Linked DNA regions of Homo sapiens: all the other regions are linked to region 3. The links come from fine-mapping of genetic effects on plasma protein levels. Region 3 holds a variant in brackets. A gene starts in each other region. All regions are shown on their reverse strands.

Evidence for each region. A credible set is the group of variants that fine-mapping cannot tell apart. PIP is the posterior inclusion probability: the model's chance that the variant is causal. Protein levels are from antibody-based Olink assays in UK Biobank. Linkage for the fine-mapping came from a reference panel and not from the study's own genotypes, which makes the PIPs less certain.
Region 1: BOC starts here. The variant in region 3 is the best candidate, but not a certain one, in a credible set for the plasma level of the BOC protein (UK Biobank, PIP 0.61).
Region 2: it holds the start of VEGFD, and the variant in region 3 is the best candidate, but not a certain one, in a credible set for the plasma level of the VEGFD protein (UK Biobank, PIP 0.66).

Annotation. Positions count from the first base shown.
Region 1 is chr3:113,203,843-113,211,997 of GRCh38, reverse strand. It overlaps BOC (BOC cell adhesion associated, oncogene regulated), which reads right to left and starts at 441. Exons shown (of 20, transcript NM_001378074.1): 1 at 1-441. LOC124909486 reads left to right here. Exons shown (of 2, transcript XM_047449436.1): 2 at 1-4,601. The coding sequence ends at 443. RefSeq lists an enhancer at 1-80.
Region 2 is chrX:15,379,307-15,387,486 of GRCh38, reverse strand. It overlaps VEGFD (vascular endothelial growth factor D), which reads left to right and starts at 3,074. Exons shown (of 7, transcript NM_004469.5): 1 at 3,074-3,630. The coding sequence starts at 3,541. It overlaps PIR (pirin), which reads left to right. Exons shown (of 10, transcript NM_001018109.3): 10 at 2,371-2,688. The coding sequence ends at 2,483. All of the region lies in intron 9 of PIR-FIGF (PIR-FIGF readthrough), which reads left to right.
Region 3 is chr15:101,524,729-101,532,910 of GRCh38, reverse strand. It overlaps LOC124903567 (a long non-coding RNA gene), which reads left to right and starts at 4,537. Exons shown (of 2, transcript XR_007064784.1): 1 at 4,537-4,594; 2 at 5,051-6,146. RefSeq lists an enhancer at 1,934-2,592. The variant C/T (reference allele first, on the strand shown) is at 4,456.

The DNA of each region.
Region 1 (8,155 bases), not on the chromosome of region 3:
TGGGAAGGGCGAGCCGGGGCCCGGGGGCCAGCGTGGTGGGCGCGAGGGAGCCACACAGCGCCGCGCCGCACGGACACACAACACGCTCGGTGACACCGGGGACACACAACACGGGCGAGCGGCCGCGGCTGGAGCAACAAAGGAGCCGAGGACCGAGAAGTTGCGGGCCGGAGAGGGAGGGCGCGTGCGGGCGTGTTGTGGCTGTGGCGGGCGTGAGGGTGTGCGCGCCGTGTGTGCGCGTGTGTGTCTTTTCTGTGTGTGTTTGTGTGTCTCTGTGTGTGTGTCTGTGCGCGCGCGCGGCGGCTGACACCGGCGGGCCGGGGCTCAGGGTCCCCGCGGCAGAAAGCGGCGGCCGCGGGGGCGGCAGCAGGAGGACAACGCAGGGGACGCCGCGCCCAGCGCACCCGGTCCCTCCATATGGAAGAAGCTTTTTGGATGACTGAACTCGCAAACAATTCCTTCTTTTGCTTCTCCTGCCTAGGAGCCTCCCATTACCGTGCGAGGAGGAGGAGGAGGAGGGAGTGGAGGAGGCTGGGAGGAGGGGGAGGAGCAAAATGGAGCAAAGAAAAAGTCTTGGAAAGGAAGCTGGAAAAAGTCCCCCAAACTCTAGGGCAGTTTTCCCGTTAACACCCACTTTTTGCTGTGCCTCAGACCCGCGCTCTCCTCCAACTTCTTTTGCTTTCCCATACCAAAAGCACCATCTTCTCCCTTTTCCCCGAACCCAGGGGGCTCCCCTGAAGCCTTCACTTTCTCTTTAGCTTCACCTCGCACCCTTGCTCTTCCATGTACAATCCTTCCCTCCTTTCGCCTAGTCTCTTCCAAGACTTTCCTGACACCCACCTCTCAATGGTCTTCTTCTTCTGCAAGACAAACTGTTGGATAAATCATTAAAAGCAAACTCATCAGAAAATGGGACAGCGGCGGTGGAGAAAATGATAAGGAAACCAATCTCAGGGAAGCCTTAACGCAGCCTCCCCCGACCCCCTCGGTCGGTTGGGGAGGGTTTGCCGCGTCGTCCATTGACAGCGCCCTGACCTCCATTCATCATCCCAGGATGGAGCCAGGGAGGAATGGGGAGGGAGAGCTGGGGCTGGGGTTGGGGGCATGGGTTGGGGGTGCTAGTGGCCACGGAAAAGTTAGTTACCTATGCGTGTGTATGTGTACGCGCACGCGCGCGTGTGTGTTGGTCAGAAAACTTTCAGAGCTGTGGTTCTCAAACTTGATCTGCAGCAGGACTCCCTGGAAGGCTTGCTAAATCCCTTTGCTGGGCCCCACCTCCAGAGTTTCTGATTCAGTAGGTGGACCTGGGAATTTGCATTTCAAATAGGTTCCCAGGTGATGCTGATGCTGCAGGTCAGGGGCCACGTTTTAAAAACTACCTTTCCAGGGCAGTGAGAAGGCAAATGTTGAGTTGGTGGCAAATTGGATTCCCTTCTTATTTTTTAGGAATGAAGCACAGGTTGTGAGCGGTCATCCATTCCGTATCTTCATTGCAGCTGAGAAAACCAAGTCCCAGCAGGGCTAAGCCATTTGTTTAAAGTGAACTGGGAGTTTGTGCCAAGCTGGTGAGGAAGCTGTCCTGGAAATAAGACAGCCAGGCTAGTAGTAGGGTGAATGGGGGTGCTGCCTTCCCTGTGTGGCTGGACAGCTGCACTGGGAGTCAGGAAGCCACTGTGACTTTGGAAAGTCACTTAACTTTTCTGGGCCTCTGGGGGTTTTGTGTGTGTGTGTGTGTGTGTGTGTGTGTGTGTGTGTGTGTGTGTGTGTGTTTGTTTGTTTGTTTGTTTTTTGACAGAGTCTCACTCTGTCGCCCAGGCTAGAGTGTAGTGGTGCAATCTCGGCTCACTGCAAAGTCTGCCTCCTGAATTCGAGAGATTCTCCAGTGTCAGCCTCCCAAGCAGCTGGGATTACAAGCACCTGCCACCATGCGCGGCTAATTTTTGTATTTTTAGTAGAGACGGAGTTTCACCATGTTGTCCAGGCTGGTCTTGAACACCTAGCCTCAAGTGATCTGCCCACCTTGGCCTCCCAAAGTGCTAAAATTACAGGCGTGAGCCACCTCACCCGGCCCTGTTTTGTTTTTTATTAACTTGTTTCTTGTCAGTAAACATACATACTTTACACTGAGTATAGGACTCTAATTGAATCTGAACCAAAAGACCTTTACAAAGGAAACATAAATGTATTTTATTCCATATTTTGCACTATTTTTTCTCCGGTATTTAGTCATTCAGGCAGAAGCCAATTTCCTTTTTGATTTATCGAGTACTTTCAGCTCTGTGCCTGGATTCTTAGGCATGTTCCTCTGGCAAAATGGATCTGGAGGATGATGCATTTTCAGCAAGAAGGTGAAAAGGACTCTGAACTCTCTCTGTGCATTATCCACCTACATTTCCTTTTCCTACTTAATCATCCTAATTTTCCTTCCCTTTTAATCTCTAACAATCTCCCCCAACATTCTCAAAGACCTATTTTTCTTTCCAGTCATTGACTATATTAGCTTCCACTTTCTTTTGTCCTCCTTCCAAGGCACAATTCTGGACTACAAGGCCTGGGGTCCACCCTGGGTACAGAACTTTTAATTCCCCCAAGGGAATGGGTCAACCAGCTTCCTCTGCAGTGATAACACTCCTTCTCCCCAGGGACCCAAGCAGCGTATCCAGCCTTCTGTTTTTCAAAGATGATTCCAAGTACCGCTCAATGAGAACGTGATGCATGAAGGTCTCAGATTCATTCTTTTATATTCCTGTATATACTATTCGTTGCTTGACATCTCAAAGATATCTTCTACCCCTTCTGTCATCTTTCTCCTAGGACTCTCCATTCTCTTACTCTGGTCTTTGGGTCCACACAGCCCTAGGCTCTGAGTTAAGCATCAGAACACAACAGAACACAAAGAATGTAACAGTCCCTACCAGCACCATTTAGTCAGGAGAATGACACACTGCCTTGTTCCTTCATGCATGCAGGCTGCTCACCTTTCTTTCTTTCCTTTTTTTTTTAAGATGGAGTCTGGCTCTCTCACCCAGGCTGGAGTGCGGTGGCATGATCTCAGCTCACTGCAACCTCCACCTCCCCGATTCAAGCGATTCTCCCTGCCTCAGCCTCCCGTGTAGCTGGGATTACAGGTGCCTGCCACCACGCCAGGCTAATTTTTTTTTTTTAAGTAGAGACGGGGTTTCACCATGTTGGACAGGCTGGTCTCGAACTCCTGACCTCAGGTGATCAGCCCGCCTCAGCCTCCCAAAGTGCTGGGGTTACAGGCATGAGCCACTGCTCCCGGCCTGCTGCTCACCTTTCTTATAGTTTAGGCAGAATGCAGATCACAGCTTAATAAAGAGGACTTAATTCTGCTGGCGGCATCAAGCACACTGTTGGTACCTCAGATATGTTTATTGTTTTTATTGCTCTTTGTATTAATGTGATTGTGTTTATTACTACTAGTCCTGTAAGAACAACGTATCTGAATTTTCTCCCCACTCCATTTTGCCTGGAGGGTATTTCTTGCCTAATTCCCTCCTCCCCTTTCAATTAGTTTCTCTATCTTAACCCACCCCAACCCATTCCAGCATCTCTAGCCATTTCAAAACAGTTAGGTGGAGTCTGGATCTTGTAAGGTGCTTTTTGCTACTGTCCGTTCTGTTGATGGTGATTTACCTCTAGCACCTTGCTTTCTTGGAAATGTTATGGGCCTCCACCAAGAAGGAAGCATTTGGTATGGAAGTGATCATCACATTAATTTAAATGCTTGGTCGGGGGAAGGAGTGGGGAGGTGAGTAGGGATTGTAGGTCTATATAAGTCACTATGTTGCTAGGCTGTGCAGAATAAACTGGAAGGAATTCAGTGAATGACATGAAAAGACGTGGTTTCCTCTCAGTGTGCTGTAGATACTCTACCTGTATCATATAAACAGGGATCTCTTTGACTGTGAAAGATATCTGGAGAGGATTATGCTGAGAAAATTATTAAGATGTAGACAAGAAAGAAGGACTTGATGATGTTTTCCTCTGTTTTAATATAAATCTGCTTTCCTGATTATAAAATATGTGCACTGACAAAAATTTAGAAAATGTAGAAAAACACATAAAAGAAGAAAATCAACTTAAAGTTACTACCCAGGGATAACATTGTTATTAACATAGTGGAGTGTTTTTTCTAGTCATTTTTCTTTCTTGTTTTTGTTTCTCATCAATACAAATAAACACGTTATCGACACTGAGTATATGATTCTAATTGAATCAGAATTGAAAGACATTTAAAGGGAAACATAATTGGGGTGAGTTTATTCAATATTTTATACAATTTTTAATGCATCTGGTAATTCAGGCAGGAGCCAGCTTCTTCATTGATTTATCTGGTACTTTCATATTTTACAAATTTGGGTTCATTGTACATACAGGTTATCATGCTTTTAAATTTAACATTTTAATGATTATTTTCCCCATATGTAATCTTCAAAATTTGACTTAACTGCTGTGTACTATCCCATCAAAGAGAGAGATTGTTATTTATTCAACCATTCTTCTATTGTTACATATTTAGATCGTTTCCATTTTTATTATCATCCTGTATTGCAGTTGACTAAACATCTAGCTATAAATCTTTTTGTTCTGATTATTTCCTAAGGGTAAATTCATGTAAGTAGGAGTTTGGGATCAATGGATAGGATATAACATTTTAAATGCTTTTAGTTGGTATTACAAAATTGTCCTCCAGTGGTTCCAATGTACATTTCCATCTCTCAGATTATTTTAATTAAAAACAACAATGAGATCATCAAACACAAGGTCCCAAGTGAAGACTTGATTGAATTATCTAGTCTGAATGATTACACTGAACAATAAAGAAAACAACTGCCAAATATTCACTTTAGTGGAAACAACACTCCAATGGGAAGAGCTGGGCACTAATTGCTTACCCTATGAACTGCATCATATTTATGATTTTATTTAACCTTTTCAACAAGCCTCTGAGAAATAAGCTAATGTTTATTGAGCACCTTCCTCTCCCAGTTTCTCTCCTGGATTCTGTGTGTACCTTCCATCTTGAATCCCCATAATGACCTTGTGCTATATAGGTGCAATTATCTCCATTTTATAGATAAGGAAAATTAAATAACATGCCTGAGATCCCCAACAACTAAATGGTGGTAAGAATTCCAAACCCAAGATTTTTCCAGTGAAACACACTACTTCACAACTATTTCATGAATTGCAGGCTACTTCTTGCAGTAAAAAAAAACTGTTTAGAAAATGCCCAAATTTTGTCTAGCCATTAAGAAGTATTTTATGGGCTTTCCAAGGAGTGTTTTTCTTTTTTCGAAAGAGACATTCAAGTGCATTCCAAGAACTAAGGTAACTTACTAATTGTAACTAATGTAAGAGTCTAAGGATATTATATACAGGAAGAGAATGGAGTTCTGATGTATGGGTTAAGATTAAAAATGACATACCGGCCAGGTGCGGTGACTCACGCCTGTAACCCCAGCACTTTGGGAGGCTGAGGGGGGCGGATCACGAGGTCAGGAGTTTTGAGACCAGCCTGACCAACATGGTGAAACCCCATCTCTACTAAAAATGCAAAAATTAGCCAGGCGTGGTGGCGCATGCCTATAATCCCTGCTACTCAGGAGGCTGAGGCAGAAGAGTCGCTTGAACCCGGGAGGCGGGAGGTTGCAGTGGGTTGAGATCGTGCCACTGCACTCCAGCCTGGGCAATAGAGCGAGACTCCATCTCAAAAACAAAAAAAAAACAAATAAACGAGATACCAAAATTCACAGTTTTAACAATATTAGTAAATTGGCTTTTGTACACATAACTATTCTCAAAAGCTTATATTTGGATAAAGACATTTTATCTTGATAAATGATACTGGAAATGAGATATTCATGAACCCAACTTTCTGCTTTAAAATTCAAGCTGTTGAGTGTATAAAGTGTCTATTTATTAAGGCAATATCTCAGTACAATTTCAAGATGCATAACATAATCCATTAATTTATAATTAGGAAAATTAGCCCTCATTTGCTCTTGACTGGACCATTAACTAGTTATCTGAGTTGGCTTACCGTTCTATGCTGGGTATTGCAAGGGCTGCTGGAGAAGAAATATGCCCAGTTGCTCTAAAATATTTGTTGACTGAAGGAAGAATGATGAATGAAAGTATAAGATTGACCTATGCAACAATTAGTAGAAACAATGCAAGACAGCGTATAATTAAACCCTAAATTGCATGGTTCAGGCAGAACTACAGGTGAGCCTGGTATGATGCCATCTATTCCTTATACAAGTTGAACTGGCTGGGACTGACTTCTCTAGCCCCAGGCTGTCAACTCAGGCATTCCTACTGGCTATATGTTCCGTTGACTTTTAGGAATTAATCACCAGATCCCCACAAGGCTCCCTATGGACAAGTGTACCCCAGGGGGAGAATGATATTTTATTTATTTATTTAGAGACAGGGTCTCACTCTGTCTTCCAGGCTGGAGTGCAGTGGTGTGATCTTGGCTCACTGCAACCTCTGCCTCAGCCACCTGAGTAGCTGGGATTACAGGCGCACACCACCATGCCCAGTTGATTTTTTTTTTTTTTTTGACAGTGTCTTGCTCTGTCACCCAGGCTGGAGTGCAGTTGTGTGATCTCGGCTCACTGCAAGCTCCGCCTCCCGGTTCACGCCATTCTCCTGCCTCAGCCTCTGGAGTAGCTGGGACTACAGGTGCCTGCTACCAGGCCGGCTAATTTTTTGTATTTTTAGTAGAGACAGTGTTTCTCCAAGTTGGCCTGGCTGGTCTCGAACTCCTGGGCTCAACTGGTCCACCTGCCTCGTCCTCCGAAAGTGCTAGGACTACAGGCGTGAGCCATTGTGCTTGGCCGAGGATGAGATTTTTAAAAAAAGAATATTGTGGCATCAAGACAAACCTGGGTTTGAATCCAGTCTTAAATAAGCTGCATGAGCTTAGACAAATTAATTACATCCCTAAACCCTAGTTTCTGTGAATATTGGAAATAATATATATGTACTATTTCTCTCTCTATATATACACATATATATGTATACACATATATATACACATACACATATATATATGTGTATATATGTATATATAAACCCTTGGTAGGCACTCAATAAATGGAGGGAAAATTAGTAAAAGTTTGAGTGAGAGGTGAAGCTGGGTTAGAGAAATGAAAAATAGAATAGTCCAAGGCCACTTCTGTGTGCTTGATTTTGCAAAGCCCTAGACAAATAGAATCTATTGACACTGAATTCCACGTGAGACCACTTTTCCAAGATATCAGATTCTCTAAAGCAAGCACAGCCCCCTTTCGTCCTCCATGACACCCCCACCTTCCTCATCTCCCGCCATCTGTTCTTCCCCCATCCCTTCACTTGTTAGGCTGAGACAGTTGGATTCTGGTGCTGCCCAGACTCCAGCTGTTTGACATTGTGCAGTGACGGCAGCAAAGAGGGCAGGGGCGCAAGATTCCAGATGAAAGCAAAAACTCAAAGAGAACTGGATCTCAGAGCTTTGATACTAAACTCAGTGGATAACAGCCTCCGTTAAATTTGTTCAGTCAGCCATTTAAGGGGGAAGAAGTTTCTCACACATCTTGTAAGGGTTTTTAGCAATGAGATGCTTCCATGGAGGGGAATCCATATTCTGGGGACTGAGCTGGGCAGAATCTAATGCCAAAGCTGCCACTGCAAGCTTTGAGGCAGGTATTATGCCATCTTGTTTTGTTCTACATGTGTTATTTTCTTTCTCCTTCATAAGATACCTGCGATTCTCTGAGACTTTTGGCCACAGCATCAGGAAACCTAACTATGCCTGACCCTACTCCACCTTACCCCACTTCTTCAAGTCCTCCACTCACAAGCAGAATTTAACAGGGAGGCCCAAGCTGCTCTGCAGTTCTGGTCATGGAGGGAAGGTTGACCGGCCTCCCTGGACAGTGGTTGGAAGCTCTCTGTGGACCTGCAGGCAGAGCCATGAGGAAGGGAGAGGAATTGACAAGAATATAGATTCTGGGGCTGGTGGTGTTGTAGAAGCCTCCCTGCCACCTCTCTCATTGAGAATCAGAAAACAGCTGTATATTCTTTGCCTTTTATTTGTTGAATTCATCAACTAGAAAATGGAATTGTTAGAGGCTTGGTGGTC
Region 2 (8,180 bases), not on the chromosome of region 3:
GATCCATAGTTTCAACAATGTACCAAAAACCTCTGCTTGGGAAACCACTTTATTGTCTCTAGTACTTCTATGTTAAAATACTCAGAACTGGGCCGGGCGCGGTGGCTCATGCCTGTAATCCCAGCACTTTGGGAGGTCGAGGCTGGCAGATCACTTGAGGTCAGGAGTTTGAGACCAGCCTGGCCAACATGGTGAAACCCAATCTCTACTAAAAATACAAAAATTTAGCCGGGCATGGTGGCACGTGCCTGTAATCCCAGCTACTGGGGAGGCTGAGGTGTGAGAATTACTTGAACCCGGGAGGCGGAGGTTGCAGTGAGCCAAGATCGCACCACTCACCACTGCACTCCAGCCTGGGCGACAGAGCAAGACTCGGTCTCAAAAAAAAAAAAAAAAAAAAAAAAAAAAAAAAAGAAAAGAAAAGAAAAACAAAACAAAAAATATCCAGAACTGAACACCTTGCTCCATCCAAAGCCTCCCACGTCCTGTATCTCAAATACCCTTAACAATTCCACCATTGACTCAGCCTCCCAAATTAGACACCTGCTCTTCTACCTTGATGCCAAAGTCTTCTTTAAAAATTATAAATCATATTATATTACTCCCTACTTAACCTTACAGTGATTCATAATCACCTGCAAAAGTAGGTCCAAACTTCTTCCTGTAGATTGCATCCAAAGCCCAGAAGGGTCTGGTTTCTTCCTATATTTCAGATCGCCATTTTTTCCGCCTTTGATCCCTCCTTCCACCACTGTACCCCTATCCCCTCCAGTATTCCTCCAGCATACTAAGCCTGAACATGCCTTTCCTCCGTGTGTGACTGCTCAAACATCACTCCCTCTGTGAATCCTTTCCTGGATTTCTCCTCCTCCCCCTTTCTGTGTTGATTTTATAGTTTTTACACTTTTATCCTTCCATATTTCAAACAGTTTTGTAATGATTTCTTTTCATATCTGTGTGATAGATTTGAATCCTTGAGGAGAGGGAGTCTGCCATTTATTTGTCTTTCATCTTTATGTCTCTAGCTTCTAGCACAATGTCTGTCATTTAATGGGCATTCAGTACATAATAGATAGGTAATTGAATGAATGGATTTAGATGCCTGGGTGTTTTCTTTCTACTTGTATTCTATTCCCCACATCCTCTCCAAAGATTTCAGCATCATCAAGACATATTATCCTGTGTCTTCCTTCTGAAGATTTAAATTATAGTGATCACCAAATCCATGTTGATATGATAACAATGGTTAAGAAGTTTGAATATGTTATTTTCTCTAAGCAATACAGTTGTATATTAATCAGAATCTCCCAGAGAAAGCCCCTTAGAGCAGGCAGTTCCATAAAAGGAATGTCAGGAACTTCTGCAGGCTGGATGAGGACATACACTGAGTGAACAAGTCTGTCAACTGCTCTAAAGACACTGTCAATGCCATATAAAAGCTGGCCTTGTTCATCTAGCAGATCATGGGGGTGAGACAGTCCAGTGCCTCTCTGCCCCTACAATATATGAAGAAAGGGGAAGAAACACACATTGCCTCCTGGTAGATTAGGGGAGGACTTCTTGTACATTTTTAGCAAAATCCGAGTTCAGACCCAGCAATTAGACAAAAGGGTCAGCAAACTATGGTCGATGGGCTACATCTGCCCACTGCATGTTTTTGTAAATGAAGTTTTATTGGGACACAGCCATACCTATTCACTTTTGCATTATCTATGGCTGCTTTTGCACTTTGATGAAAGAGTTGAGTAGTTGAGACAGACACTGTTTGACCCACAAAATCTAAAATACATACTATCTAGCCCTTCCTAGCAAACATTTGCCAACCCCTAGAAAACTTTTAAAAAATGATGCTCTTCGACTTGAAATTTTTATAATCTTCTGTTTATTGTCAATAGGTGCTGCTGATTTTCAAAAAATGACTTAGAATCCTCAAATAAGTATACAGCCTTATATGCTGCTTAGACACCAAAGCTATGATAAGATTTGTCAGTTCTTTGTATCAGATGGGTTCAATTCTTGACATCAGCTAATGTTATAAAAATAACTACAAAATTGGTTGTAATAGAACCAAATCTAAGACTCTTTTTAATAAAAAAGATCACCATTGCTGGTGAGAAACCTATACTGAATGGGTGAGATGCCATTGCATTTATCTGAAGTTTCGTCTTTATAATCAATAATCATATACAATCCTAGTCAAGAAACTCATCTTACAGTCCTTGGGGATTGAACACTGTGAAAATAAACTTTTACTCTTCGGATGTGCTTGGATTTTGTTTTAAATTAAGAACTACAGAAATATATATCATTTCTAGTGGTAGAGGAAAATATTGCCACCCAGAACTTTCTGAATGTCTCTTTCTGCCCTAGGTCCATTTGTGATGAACACCAATGAAGAGATTTCTCAAGCTATTCTTGATTTCAGAAACGCAAAAAATGGGTTTGAAAGGGCCAAAACCTGGAAATCAAAGATTGGGAACTAGTGGAAAGCGGAAGAGCAGGTCTTGATGTGTCCTAGAATTTTGCCATTTCTGAGATTGAGCCATTGAAGGCATTCCATTTCTAAAGCTTATTTAGCCGGTGCTTCTAAAGAATTCCACACTAACGTGATAACATGGTTTTTGTAACAATAAATGTAGGATATTTCCTGGCACATGCAAATAAACCTAATCATTGTTTCTTTAAAAATCAGTGTTTTTCATTTGAGATACCTAAGTTACTAAGCTTCTGTTTAAAAAGTCGTTTTGTGTATGTTTGCCTTTTTTTGCATGTATGGATGGATGTTTTTATTATTTTTGTGCATGTGCAGGTTTTAAAAATCATATTTGATTGCTTTCTGTGTGTCATTGGCAGCAGATGCATGAGCATCTGAGGTCCCTTCTTAAGCAATCCCACTGAGATACAAAGGTCAAAGCTATGTGCTGGGGTTTCATGTTACAGGTTATCTGCTTTAAAATAACGGCAGCCCTGAACATTTGAGTCAGTTCTTAAAACTGCCCTGCTATTGGTAGGGACGCAACAGGATTACAGCCAAGACTTCTCTGCATTTTCTGCCAAAATCTGTGTCAGATTTAAGACACATGCTTCTGCAAGCTTCCATGAAGGTTGTGCAAAAAAGTTTCAATCCAGAGTTGGGTTCCAGCTTTCTGTAGCTGTAAGCATTGGTGGCCACACCACCTCCTTACAAAGCAACTAGAACCTGCGGCATACATTGGAGAGATTTTTTTAATTTTCTGGACATGAAGTAAATTTAGAGTGCTTTCTAATTTCAGGTAGAAGACATGTCCACCTTCTGATTATTTTTGGAGAACATTTTGATTTTTTTCATCTCTCTCTCCCCACCCCTAAGATTGTGCAAAAAAAGCGTACCTTGCCTAATTGAAATAATTTCATTGGATTTTGATCAGAACTGATTATTTGGTTTTCTGTGTGAAGTTTTGAGGTTTCAAACTTTCCTTCTGGAGAATGCCTTTTGAAACAATTTTCTCTAGCTGCCTGATGTCAACTGCTTAGTAATCAGTGGATATTGAAATATTCAAAATGTACAGAGAGTGGGTAGTGGTGAATGTTTTCATGATGTTGTACGTCCAGCTGGTGCAGGGCTCCAGTAATGAACATGGACCAGTGAAGGTAGGTGAGCTCAATTTTTAATGTGATGAAGTTCTTTTTATTGGCTCATACAGAGGACTTTCTTTGCCCTCACTATTTTTGAAACAATATAAAAATGCAGAACCATCCTAGTAGTGGACTGGACAGGATATATCCTGCATTTCTTGGTGACTGTTCTGTTTCTTAGTCTTATTAAACTTCTGGCCATGAGTATTTGAAAATGCTGGGGTGGGGGTTGGTTGTTTTTTGAAGTTATGGTAGAACATGAGCAGTCTGGAATCTTTTTGGATGGAGAAGTTTCTCCTCGGTTGCATATGCAGATGGCACAGTGGTTTTTTAATGAAACATTGATTTGTTTTTATGACTGATAACTTTGTGGGCCATTTATTTTCAGGTCTTTGTGAGCAGCAGAGGTTAGTTTATTCGTTTGGTAAATTGAAAATTGCAGTGCTTTCTATGAACATTTTCTATCTGCTTTTGCAAATTACCAATTGCTGCCATCCAGAAAAATGTTTTCTCAGAGAGTGTTTGGTTTTTTCGCTTCTTGAAAGGTGTAAAATTCAACACTAATCAAATCTTTGGTTCTGTGAGCAAGCATCAAATAGAGCTTAACGAACAGAGAGTAATGCAAAAAATTAACCAGAATGTTGCTGACTGCTGGAACAATACTTAGCCCAATTTTATGCATTTCATGGATTATATATATTTTAAGCTTCTATTTTGAAAATGATTCGGATGTAATTGTTTTGACTGAAGTGGTGCTAAATCATTATTGATTTAGGAACTTCTGGCCTTGAAAAGACAATTAAATGTGAGTTTGAGTTTTTGTAGCTGTTGTTTAGGACGTGCATTTTCAACAGGGGTGATATCGCCCCCAGCAGGGGAAAATTGGTTCGTGGAGGGATGAAAAAGTTTTACCCTTTTGATACATCACGCACAGACGTACATACAGTACATATGGTATGTAGTTTAAAATACGTTATACATTCAAATTGCATAGGGGGAAAGTGTCTTCAAAGGCTCCTGGCTGGTGTTGGTGGCCTGGCGAGGGTGGGGGCTGATATTTAAAAATGTTGAACACTGAGCTGGAGGTGAGTGGGAAGTCACCTTGTCTGGCAGCCAGCACTTTTCTAACTTCTCAAATTCCAAATTTACATGGGAGAAATCACAGTGTTTGGCTCCATTTTACTGCCACCAGCCTTGATATTGGATCTCAAGGCCAGATTGTAGGTAAATGGGAATCTGACTGTAAGCATAGGTAACAGGAGAAAACGGTCTGACTTGTTTGAAGCAAGTAAGACTTTTCCGACTGTCCAGCTTTTTCGTAAGTTCATGAAACAGAAATCCTTTAGATGTGCTGGGCTCCTCGAGTTTTAAAATATTTCCATTTTCCTTGTAAAACATCACTTTATCTGATGGTATAATAAAGGAGACTGAATTGTTGGACATAAGTCATATTCTTTAGGTTGCTCAGCTCTTTCAAAGAGCACAAGCACCAAGAATGTCTCAGGTGTCCTGGGCACTGTGAAGTTTTATTTATTTATTTATTTATTTATTTGAGACGGAGTCTCACTCTGTCACCCAGGCTGGAGTGTAGTGATGCAATCTCAGCTCGCTGCAACCTCTGCCTCCCGGGTTCAAGTGATTCCCCTGCCTCAGCCTCTCGAGTAGCTGGAATTATAGGCACGTGCCACCATGCCGGGCTAATTTTTTGTATTTTTAGTAGAGACAGGGTTTCACTGTGTTAGCCAGGATGGTCTCGATCTCCTGACCTGATGATCTGCCCGCCTTGGCCTCCCATAGTGCTGGGATTACAGGCGTGAGCCACCGCGCCCGGCTGGCACTGTGAAGTTTTAAATGCTTTGAATGTACTGTTAATATATAAATTTGTTGAATGGAGTAACGAAGGAAAGCAGCTGAATTTGCATGTGACAGAAAACAAGTTGTTACACGTGGAGGATGCAGCATTATATACTTACTAATACGATTAGCAATTTTTTTTCAGAATATATCAGAATTTCCTTTAAAAAGTGAAGCTACATATACTGAACTTATATCCACCCTACCCCTCGCTCAATTAAATTATTTCTGATATGAAGGAAAGGATTGCCTATAGCTAAACAGAAGTTTTGGCATAGATATGACTGAGTGGTAAGGGATAATGAGATATATAATATTGGTTATAGTTTTCTTTTTTCCCCAACTTTTAAGAAAAGAAAATCTAAGAGGAAATAATGTTTCTAAATGTTAAAGTTCTTCTTGTTAAAATTAAAATGTAGTGTGAAAACATATTCATGGTGGTAATGGTTTAGGGTGGTGGTATTTGAATTTTTTGTTTTTTTTTTTTTACTTTTTGAAATAAAATGTTTTATTTATTATAAGAAATTCATGGTCTTCCTCGGTACTTGGTCCATATGTATTTCTTTCTCCTCACCCTCCCCTCTTCTAACCACCTCTTTTCCAGAATGGATGGTGATGCCAATTTTGCTCCTAGGTTGTCCTCCAGCCACCCCCAGCCCAGTTTTCACTTTCTAGCTTTGAAGATTGTCCAGTTTTCCAGCTTAGACTAGCATTGCCTCTACGATAGTTCTAGGTATCTGTGAAGATTTTTTTTTTTCCTGTAGCAATCATGAAATAGCTACTAGTGCTCTGGACGATTGTGCTTAATGCCATTTGGGTGTAAGGCCTCCTAATTTCATTAGTCTTACCACTTGTGTTTGCAAGGATAGCTGTTTGGAGTCAGCAGTGCATGGAACATGTGAACTGAGACAAATCTGTTTGAAAATCTCAACTTAAGATTTCAAATCCACTGTGTATACTATTTAGCTGTTAAGTTTCTCAGTCTAAGAAGAACACGTTTTCCTCTAGAAATAAGCTTAACCCAGTACCTATGCATCGTTCATTAATATAATCAGATTACGGCCTAGATGTGGAATTTATTTCTGTTTCTATTTTCTCCAGCTTTTTAATACAGCTCAGACAGTCATATACAGTTGTACACGATGTGCACTGCACAACTCTAGGGTGCTCCATGCATATAGACATATCTGTATGTGACAGCCCTAAGTACAATGTGGTAGACACTCTGGACATTTGGTAAATAAGTATCTACATCCTCACTCTTCTCTCATTCACATTGGCCTTCTGGCCAGCACTATTTCTGGTTTATTTAATAAACAATTCTTGTCCCCCAGAAATTCTGTGAGTCTTCTGAAGATGCTGGGGAAAGCCAGCCTTCATAAATCTTTTCAATGTCACTAATGAAGACATGTCACTATTGCAACAAAGGAATACCAGGCCATAGTAGGCTTTCACAACTTTTTTCTGACAGAATTTGTTTCTTTCTGCTTTATCTTCCCTGTGTACTGTCTTTTTTTATCCACCCTCTTTCTTAATTACACTGGTAGAAGAATATTGGTGGGTGATGGAGTCATTCACATTCTGTGTAAGACTAGAATCAGTCCAAGATCCACAGGAATGTGGGATACTTCTTTCATGAGAAGCCACATGGCTCACAAGACTTCTTTACATTTGTGTTACTTGCCTTCTCCTGAAATTGTCTCTACAGTGAATCAAATAACAAGGACTGAGGTGTATTTTCCATATTTAATTCCAGGAAGCAGTCCCACTCCTTCTCCCTGCCCGATTTCCAGTTCCAAAGTCATGTACAGGGAAGTCCATTGACTTTGATGTTGGTCAAATGGCCCAGCAAGCTTTTGTCCACTTTTCTGTCAGACACAGTCCTTGGCACAAAAGACATCTGAAATACTTCCCATTAATTTCTTCTTTATTTATGACCTTGTAGTTAAGTGTGTTGAATTATATGCTTCTATACACATCTGTTTTAATCCAGTTACTCACTTATAACTGGTGACTGAAACTTTTATATCACTATAGCGTATTATTGGTACCCAGGATACAATAGAATCCTCAATATCTTACATCTTCAATATAGTACTTCCTTGTATGACTTATTTCTTAACATAAAAATCCTGTTTTAGACCTGTGGATAAACCTTTACTATAAATCCCAGAGACAATTTCTGGAATGAGAATATAGTATTTGTCCACACACATGATTCCATGTAGAACTTGAGGTAATAAGATCTGGGACTCCCAGATACATTTATTATTACCACAATTGGATAGAGGTGCTACAGAAATAGGCACACAAATGACAGTAAAATTGTTTCTGAGAACATTTCTAGGCTCAACTTTTTTCTACAACTTAGGATGAACAGAGAGAGTGGAAACTGTATATAATTGGGAATGTGACTGAGATGAGACAAAGATGACATGGAAGCATTTCTTCTTCCCTTGCTTTTCTGGTGGTAAGTTCACTCTTCTGTCTTCCTTGCCACTAGTTCTTGCAGTCCCTACCAAGACACTAGGGCATTATACAGCAAACACACCCTGAGGCCCCCTGCTACTGCATCATGAAAGCCTTAGCTGGTTGTGATGTCCTAGTTCATAAAGAATCTGCCTAGTCTCTCATTAGAGCTTTCCAATATTTGACAATTCATTCATTTATTTTTTTCAACAGGTATTTATTGGGCACCAATATATCTAGGC
Region 3 (8,182 bases):
AAACATAAAATGCGGAAACACAGATAATGATAAACGAGACCTGCACACTGAGGCTTGCGGCAGGAGCGTCCCAGGCTGGGGGCCTGTGTCACGGGTAAGAGGGGAAGTCAGGTGCAGAGGACCCCCGGGACGCCAGGTCCCCATTAGAAGCAACGGCCCAGATGTGCACAGAGGCAGGAAACTACTATGAGGTTCTGGTGCTGAGTGAACATAGAAACCCATCGAGGCCAAGAGTGAAATAGTCCTTATGTAGGTCAAGAGTACCAAACAGTACTGAGTGACAAGGAATAAGTGGATAAGCAAAACGTGGTCTACGCAGGCAAGGGAAGATGACTCAGCCTCGAAAAGGAAGGAGATTCTGACAGGTGCTACAACAGGGACAGACCTTGAGGACCTTATGCTGAGTGAAATAAGCCAGGCACAAAAGGACAAATACTCTGTGATTCCACGTATGTGAGGTGCCTGGAGTTGTCAAAATTATTGGGACAGAAAGTAGAATGGTGGGGGCCGGGCACGGTGGCTCACCCCTGTAATCCCAGCACTTCGGGAGGCCAAGGCCGGGGGATCACCTGAGGTCAGGAGTTCGAGACCAGCCTGACCAACATGGTGAAACCCCGTCTCTACTAAAAAGAATACAAAAATTAGCTGGGCCTGGGGGTGGGTGCCTGTAATCCCAGCTACTTGGGAGGCTGAGGCAGGAGAATTGCTTGAAGCTAGGAGGTGGAGGTTGCAGTGAGCTGAGACCGCACCATTGCACTCCAGCCTGGGCAACAAGAGCGAAACTCCGTCTCAAAAAAAAGGAAAGAAAGAAAGAGAAAGGAAGGAAGGAAGGGAAGGGAAGGGAAGGGAAGGGAAGGAAGGAAGGAAGGAAGGGAGGAAGGGAGGGAGGGCGAAAGAAAAAGAAAGAAAGAAAGAGAAAGAGAAAGAAAGAAGGAAAGAAAAAGAAAGGAAGGAAGATGGCTTTCAGGGGTTGAGCAGAGGTGGGATGAGGAGTTAGTGTTTAATGGCAACAAAGTTTCAGACTGAGAAGATGAAAAAGCTCTGAAGGTGGATAGCAGTGACGGTTGTACAACAGTGTGAATATACTTAATGCCACTGAACTGTACATATGAAAATATTTAAAATGGTAAATTTTATGTTACATATATTTTACCACAATAAAAATAAAATTAAAAAGGTTCAATCTAGTAAAGAAATAATTTTAGAAACCAAAATAGAATAGTGTGTCTTATACTGGGACACAAGCAAATAAAAGGACACACATTAAAATACTAGAACGCTGAGGGGGGAACGGGCACAAAAGAAAATTAAACTGGCGAAGGGGCCACGGGTCGCAGCATGTGGCAGGCAGTGCTCTCTGCCCACAGCCAGAATGCGGGATCAGGAGTGAGCAGCAAGCAGTGGGGTGACAGATGATCTCAGGGTAGCCCCCCAAGGCTGCAGGAGAGTCACCACCCCACAGCCTAGCCGGTGCCCCAGCACGCCCAACAGCCCTTCCAAACCCCCGGCTCCCAAGAATGCCCTGACAGCCGTCTGGGCTTCCCCTTCCCCTGTGTGGCCTCGTGGAGTAGAGTCCAAATCCCAGCTGCCCTGGACACGCGTCCCAGGCTGGCTGGCCCGTGGCCCATCGACACTGGGCTCATGCACACGGTAGGTGCTCTGAGAGGTTCTGTTGAGTGAGAATAAGTGACGGGAATTGAGAATGGGGAGACCTCTCCTAGCCGGGAGAAATGACACAATGCCGCTTTAGGGAAGCCCAGTGGATGATCCTTCAGATCCCCGGGGGGATAAACCTCACTTCCGATCTCAGGAGCATAGAAGTGGCCCTTTCTCTATTTTCAGTAACTGAACTCAGTTTTAATTTTAAGCGTCAATACCATCAGGTAACAAGGATTTAATCTCCACCTGGGCAGGGGCTCAGGCTTGCAGGCCAACCGGACCCTCTCTAAGCCGCCTTCTTCTCTGACCAATTCTCTGTGGCACGAGGCTCAGCCGGGGACACAGTGGCCCTGCAGTAACTGCGAGTATGCCTAGTCACCTGGCCAAGCATGAGGACCACTGCCGCAGGGAGCAGAGCAGGCCCTGCTGTGGCCTTCAGGACAGGAAAGGTGGAAAAGCCGTTTGTATACTGTGGCTAAACCCTGAGTGCGCGATACCCCTTCCAGGCTTGTAATCCACATTCCAGCCCACGGTGATTGACAGCTGGCACACAGCAGCACCCAGGGCGCCACCCGCCCTCCATGAGTGTGCTGCTGGTTTAATTGATGTGTGCAATTTTGGGGACCACTGAGTCCATCAGAATGCCAAGGAGGAAGGGGGTGGGAGGGACGGCAGGGCAGGGTGTGCCTTGCATGGGCAAAGAGGTCAGAAGTGAGCATTACATCAAGCAGGCCCGCGGCAGCTTTGAAGAGCACCGTCAGGGCAGGAGACAGTCCTCAAGCAGCAGCACAGGGCAGACCCTGACTGTGCGCACCAGGCTTCCCGCCTGCAAAGCACTTCTGGTTAATCATCAGAAAGGGAATATTGTAAAAGGGTATCAAGTGGCTCACAGACAACTCCCTGCTGAGTCACTGTGGGGAAGGGTCAGGAACCTGGAGGTGCCAAGTGGCCACAGCTATAGCCCCAAGACATGTGGCTAGGACACTGCTGGTGCTGAGCATGCACTAGCCACTGCTCTTCGCACCCAGGACACTGGGGCACTGCTCTGCCACCTGGGAATGGGGGGACGGACCCTGAAGTCTCCGTGCCTCCTGGGCATGTGGCTGCACAGCCCTGCTACCCCCCACCGGTGTCAGGGAGTGCACGTTCTTGGCCTTTTAGGCTTCTGTAGAGGGAAGCAGGGTTTTGCCTCCCACTAAGACGGTTCACTTCTCAAATGTTAAAAGGCTGTCCTGATGCTGCATAACCACAAAATAAAAAGCATCCAGAAGGCCAGGCGTGGTGGCTCACGCCCGTAATCCCAGCACTTCGGGAGGCCGAGGCGGGTGGATCACTTGAGGTCAGGAGTTCGTGACCAGCCTCGCCAACATAGTGAAACCCCATCTCCACTAAACATACAAAAATTAACCAGGCGTGGTGGCTAATGCCTGTAATCCCAGCTACTTGGGAGGCTGAAGCGGGAGACTCACTTGAACCTGGGAGGCAGGGGTTGCAGTGAGCCGAGATCACGCCACTGCACTCCAGCCTGGGTGGCAGAGCAAGACTCCATCTCAAAAAAAGCATCCACAAGAATGACCAAGTGACTGCTCAATGGCCATGGATGTTTCTGGACCCTGAGGGCCCCTGTTTTGCTGAGATGGAAATCATTGCTGACTCCTTTAATGTTGTTTAATTTTTTAAAAACCTCTTCAAGCATTCCTCTAGATTTCTGGTATTCAGAACTATGCTGTGAACACAGAAAGATTAAGGACTGTTCTTCTAATGCCTTAGACAGCCTGTGCCAATTGGTCTCAGAGTAGAGAAAAATATATTTATGCTGTGAAACCTAAATACCCAAACTAAATTCATTTTAGCAAAGATTAATACGCAGAGCCCCAATTCTTGTACAGATTCCTCAGAGCAGCACGTGCTGTTCGGCGCTTCTTCCTTTATAATAAATGGTCAGGTGTGCAAACAACTGTTTGAAGAGCCATTAGGAGTCAGTCAGCTGTGGTGTGGGCAGAGTGGGCAGTGGTATGCCAGGAAGCGCCCAGGGTTGCAGGTCTAGGGCATTGTGGAGACAGCAGCAGCATTCCTTGGTCCTGAGCTGGGATTCCGCATCCAGTTGGGCCCAAGCGTGATCTGTGTGTAGTTCCATGAGGCCTGGGTGGAGGGTGTTGGGAGTGATAGAATGTTTGGAAGGAAGTACAGGGGAGTGAGGCCTGATTCACCCAGGCTATGGGGCTGTGTGAAAATGGCCAGGCTCTTGAATGTTTGGCACATAGAGGAGAAAACTGTCATGAACAAGACTCATAGCCCCTGAAAATAGGCAGCTTGTCTTCTCTGCAAGACGGCCTGGCTGGTGTCCCTGCAAGCCCAAGTGTGAGCTGGGGGATTCGCAGGCAGGCTGGTGACACTTTCCATCAGTGGGAACCCCTCTACTTTCGAGCACCTGCCCCCGACTTCATGCAGGGAGTGCACGAGGAGTCTGCCTGGGACTGTGGATGGGCCTGAAGGACAGCCCAGCCTGGGACTGTGGGACGCAGCTGTCCAGCGAGGTGCTGGCTGGCCGGCCAGCAGCCACCACCCAGGCCCAGCTGCAGGGCTGGGTTTCCTGCAAACCGTGATTCTGGAGCAGGGTAGGTGACCCCGAACTGCCTGTTTACAGTTTTCATGCACCCTGGGGACACCGTGAGCCTCCCCAGCCCTGTGGCCTTGAGCTGCTGTATTCTAGAAATACCGGCAGCTGCCTGTCCCCTGAAGCCTCCCCACAGCTTTGAGCAATGATGAATATTGGTTAATCTCTCCTGTAAACAG[C/T]TGTTTTCCCGGCAACTGCCCAGCTCGTGTTAAATATTAACAAAGAGCCGCCTCCACAGCCGCTCACAGGGTGTCTGCTTTAAATATTTAAGAAATTGCTGTTCCTGTCCCTGAGTGACTCTTTGGCTCAAACTGTTCTGTAAGTGTTCTTGCCTCCCTGGTGACTGCGTTGTGTGAAATGTCCGACATCCCTGCTTGCTTGCTCTTTCTTCACCCATTGCTCTCTTTGTCTCTGTCCTTCCCTGTCTCTATCACTGTCTCTCTGTCTCTCTCTCTCTTAGTGAATAGTACTAAAAAATGTAAACGCTGAGGGTTGCACTCAGTCCTGGGTGCTCAGCCAAGCTGCCTGGAGATGCCCCAGGCAGGCTCCTGCTCCATCGAGATGCTGCGGAAAGCAAGTGGCCTTTAAGTGTTGCTGCCTCACACGCTCATGGTTAGGTGTGAATAGCTGGGGCACCCCACCCCTCGCCCCCATCTGGGGGTGTGTCTGCACACGTGTACTCAGGTGCCCAGAGGGTTGTGGAAATGCCGTGACCGTGTGTAAATCCTTTACATCTAAGTCCTTCTCACTGTTGGCACTTCCCATTCCCTTCAGGGTTTGTGGAAGACACGCCTGTTTTCTTCCCTGGGCTAACTGTGAAGCTCAGAAGAGGAAGAAGGGCCCGGATGGCAGATGAACCGCACAGGGCTGTGTGGCCTCAGCCCCGCAGCTGGGGAGCTCAGTGGCCTCCTGGAGGAGAAGCTGACTTTGGAGGACCTGGAACACCATGGCTGCTGGGAGTTGGGGCTGTGCGGGAGGCTTCTGTCTCTGTGTGGCGTTTGGTCATAACCACTGGACTTTGGAACATCCTGCTTAAAACCACAACTTTGGCTGGGCACGGTGGCTCATGCCTGTAATCCCAGCACTTTGTGAGGCTGAGGTGGGCGGATCGCTTGTGCTCAGGAGTTCAAGGCCAGCCTGGGCAACATGGCAAAACCCTGTCTCTACTAAAAATACAAAAATTAGCTGGGCATGGTGGCTCACACCTTGGGTGGCTGAGGCAGGAGAATCACTTGAATCCAGGAGTTGGAGTCTGCAGTGAGCCAAGATCACTCAACTGCACTCCAGCCTGGGCGACAGACTGAGACCCTGTCTCAAAGAAACAAAACAAAACAAAACAACAGCAAAAACCCCCACAACTTTACCTAGACTCATCTGTGAAAACTTCAGTGAATCCGGCCTCAAACTGTCGCTATGGGGGAGCCACTGGCAGCTGAGTTTGTTTAGATTCCTCCTTCCTGGGTGAGACCTGGGGTTGGAAACACCATTGAAATTCCCTCTAGTAATGGGCTCTGTCGTCCAGAGGAAGGGGCAAGACTCCCCCACCCCCACTTCTCACCCCTTGCCCGGGGTCTCTTCTCCCTTCCTGACCAGGAGCCTAAGGAAGGCCTCAGGTAGAAATAGAGAAGCATCTTCCTCCCTCTGGGGCCAGAGATTTCCAGCCGAGTTTTGTGAGACTCCAAGACTGCTGTGCGTATCCTCAGAGCTGCTGAGATCACCTCAAAACAAAGCCCGTTTAAAGTCACTTTCATTTATTTCAAGAGCTACTGTGAACCTCTCAGGATAAAATGAAAATGAACTTCAATTCACTTTAATTTTTAAAAGATATGTTCGTTTAATATCCTTTTTAAAATAAAAACAGGGAAAAAGACGTAGTGGTTTCAAGTTTGCAATTCCCATCCGGCCCAGGTGAGGCCACAGGGCCACCTCCCGTGAGAAGAGCGTGGCCTCAGGAGGGCAGGTGGCACAGTGCATGAGCCTGCGGCGAGTCTCGGGCTCTGCCTAGGGTCGGGGGAGGGGCTCTCTGCATCTCACTCTCCCCAGTTCTAAACGGAGAAAGTAGTAGTACCTGCCTTAGGGTGTTGGTAGAGAACTGACTTAGATCTTGCCGGTAAAACTCAGGGCCTGCAGGCGTGACCTTACAGCAGGTGGGCTACAGGCACAGTCCTGGCTACAAGCCGGGCAGCTGTCTTGTCCCAGGAGACCAGGAAAGCCTCCAAGACACCATGGGCCTATTGGTAGGGGACAAGTGGGCTTCCCTGCCAGGTGGCCTGGTGACAGGGTCATTAGCAGTTGAAAATTTTGAGAAAATGATTCTGTGAGCTGGAGGGCAATTGGACGGGTGAGGATGGAGGAGAAAGCCAAAATCCGCAACTCGGATCACTGTCAGGGCGAGGCTGGGAGTGGGGGAGCGGGGGATCCCTCCCCAGAGGAGCACAGGCTGCAAGCTGGTGGCCTGGAGGCCTGGGGGAGAGGAGCGCAGCCAGGGCAGGACTGTTGCTGGAAGTCTGTGGAGGAAGCTGCCTTGTCAGTCAGCCTCCCGACCCCAGGCACACAGCGATTACAACCTCATGCCAAAAAACAAAAACAAAAACAAAAACAATGCTCTTTTGAAAAGAAATTGAACAAACTACCAGACTGGGCCCCATCCTTAAACCTCATTTAATTTTTTTTTTTTTTTTTTTTTTTGAGACGGAGTCTCACTCTGTCACCCAGGCTGCAGTGCAGTGGCGTGATCTTGGCTCACTGCAACCTCGGCCTCCTGGATTCAAGCGATTCTCCTGCCTTAGCCTCCCGAGTAGCTGGGATTACAAGCATGTGCCAGCATGACTGGCTAATTTTAGTATTTTTAGTAGAAACGGGGTTTCGCCATGTTGGCCAGGCTGGTCTCAGACCCCTGACCTCAGGTGATCCTTCTGCCTCGGCCTCATAAAGTGCTAGGATTACAGGCATGAGCCACCACATCCAGCCTCATTTAACTTTAATTACCTTTAAGGGCCTTGTCTCCAAATACAGTTGCATTGGGGGGCAGGGCTTTGACATAAAAATCTGGAAGGACGCAAACATTCATTCCATAGCACTCAGAGAGCAGCAGCTACAGGAGGTCACTGACCCCCTATAGAACTGGAGAATGAAATGGAAAGTGAAGCTACGAGAGCTCATGAGCACGATTGCCCCTCATCCAGAAACCAGGAGTTACCCTCTGGCCGCTGCTACGGAGCCTAAACATCAACAGCTCCGCCACTATTGTGACACCCACCACCAATCTGCAGATTGCAGTCACTCTCAGCTGCCAGCTGCTCCCGGAGCTGGAGAAGGGGACATGCTTTCTCCCATGATCCAGCCTTCCAGCCTCCAGTGCCTCTCATTGGCCGGAAACTTGCATCAGGAGAAGCTGGGAATATAGTTCATAGGCTTCCAGCCCTGGCAGTTACAAATGGGAGTATGGAGTGACAAGTTAGAAGCTATGTCCACAGATAAATAAACAGCACAGATTGCAAGACAGAGAAGCGCAATCAAGAGGCAGTTATTCTTCGTCCATGAGAAAAATGAAAGGTAAATCAAACATGGGGGGGATATCAAAAAGTTGTCTGTGAAAGCCACAGTCTAATCATGAAAAAACTAAAAATATGTTATGGTTTTCTGTTTTGAGACGGAGTCTCGCTCTGTCACCCAGGCTGGAGTGCAGTGGCATGATCTTGGCTCACTGCAACCTCCACCTCCCAGGTTCAAGCAATTCTCCTGCCTCAGCCTCCTGAGTAGCTGGAACTACAGGCACCTGCCACCACGCCCGGCTAATTTTTTGTGTTTTTAGTAGAGACGGGGTTTCACCGTGTTAGCCAGGATGGTCTCCATCTTCTGACCTCATGATCCGCCCGCCTCGGCCTCCCAAAGTGCTGGGATTAC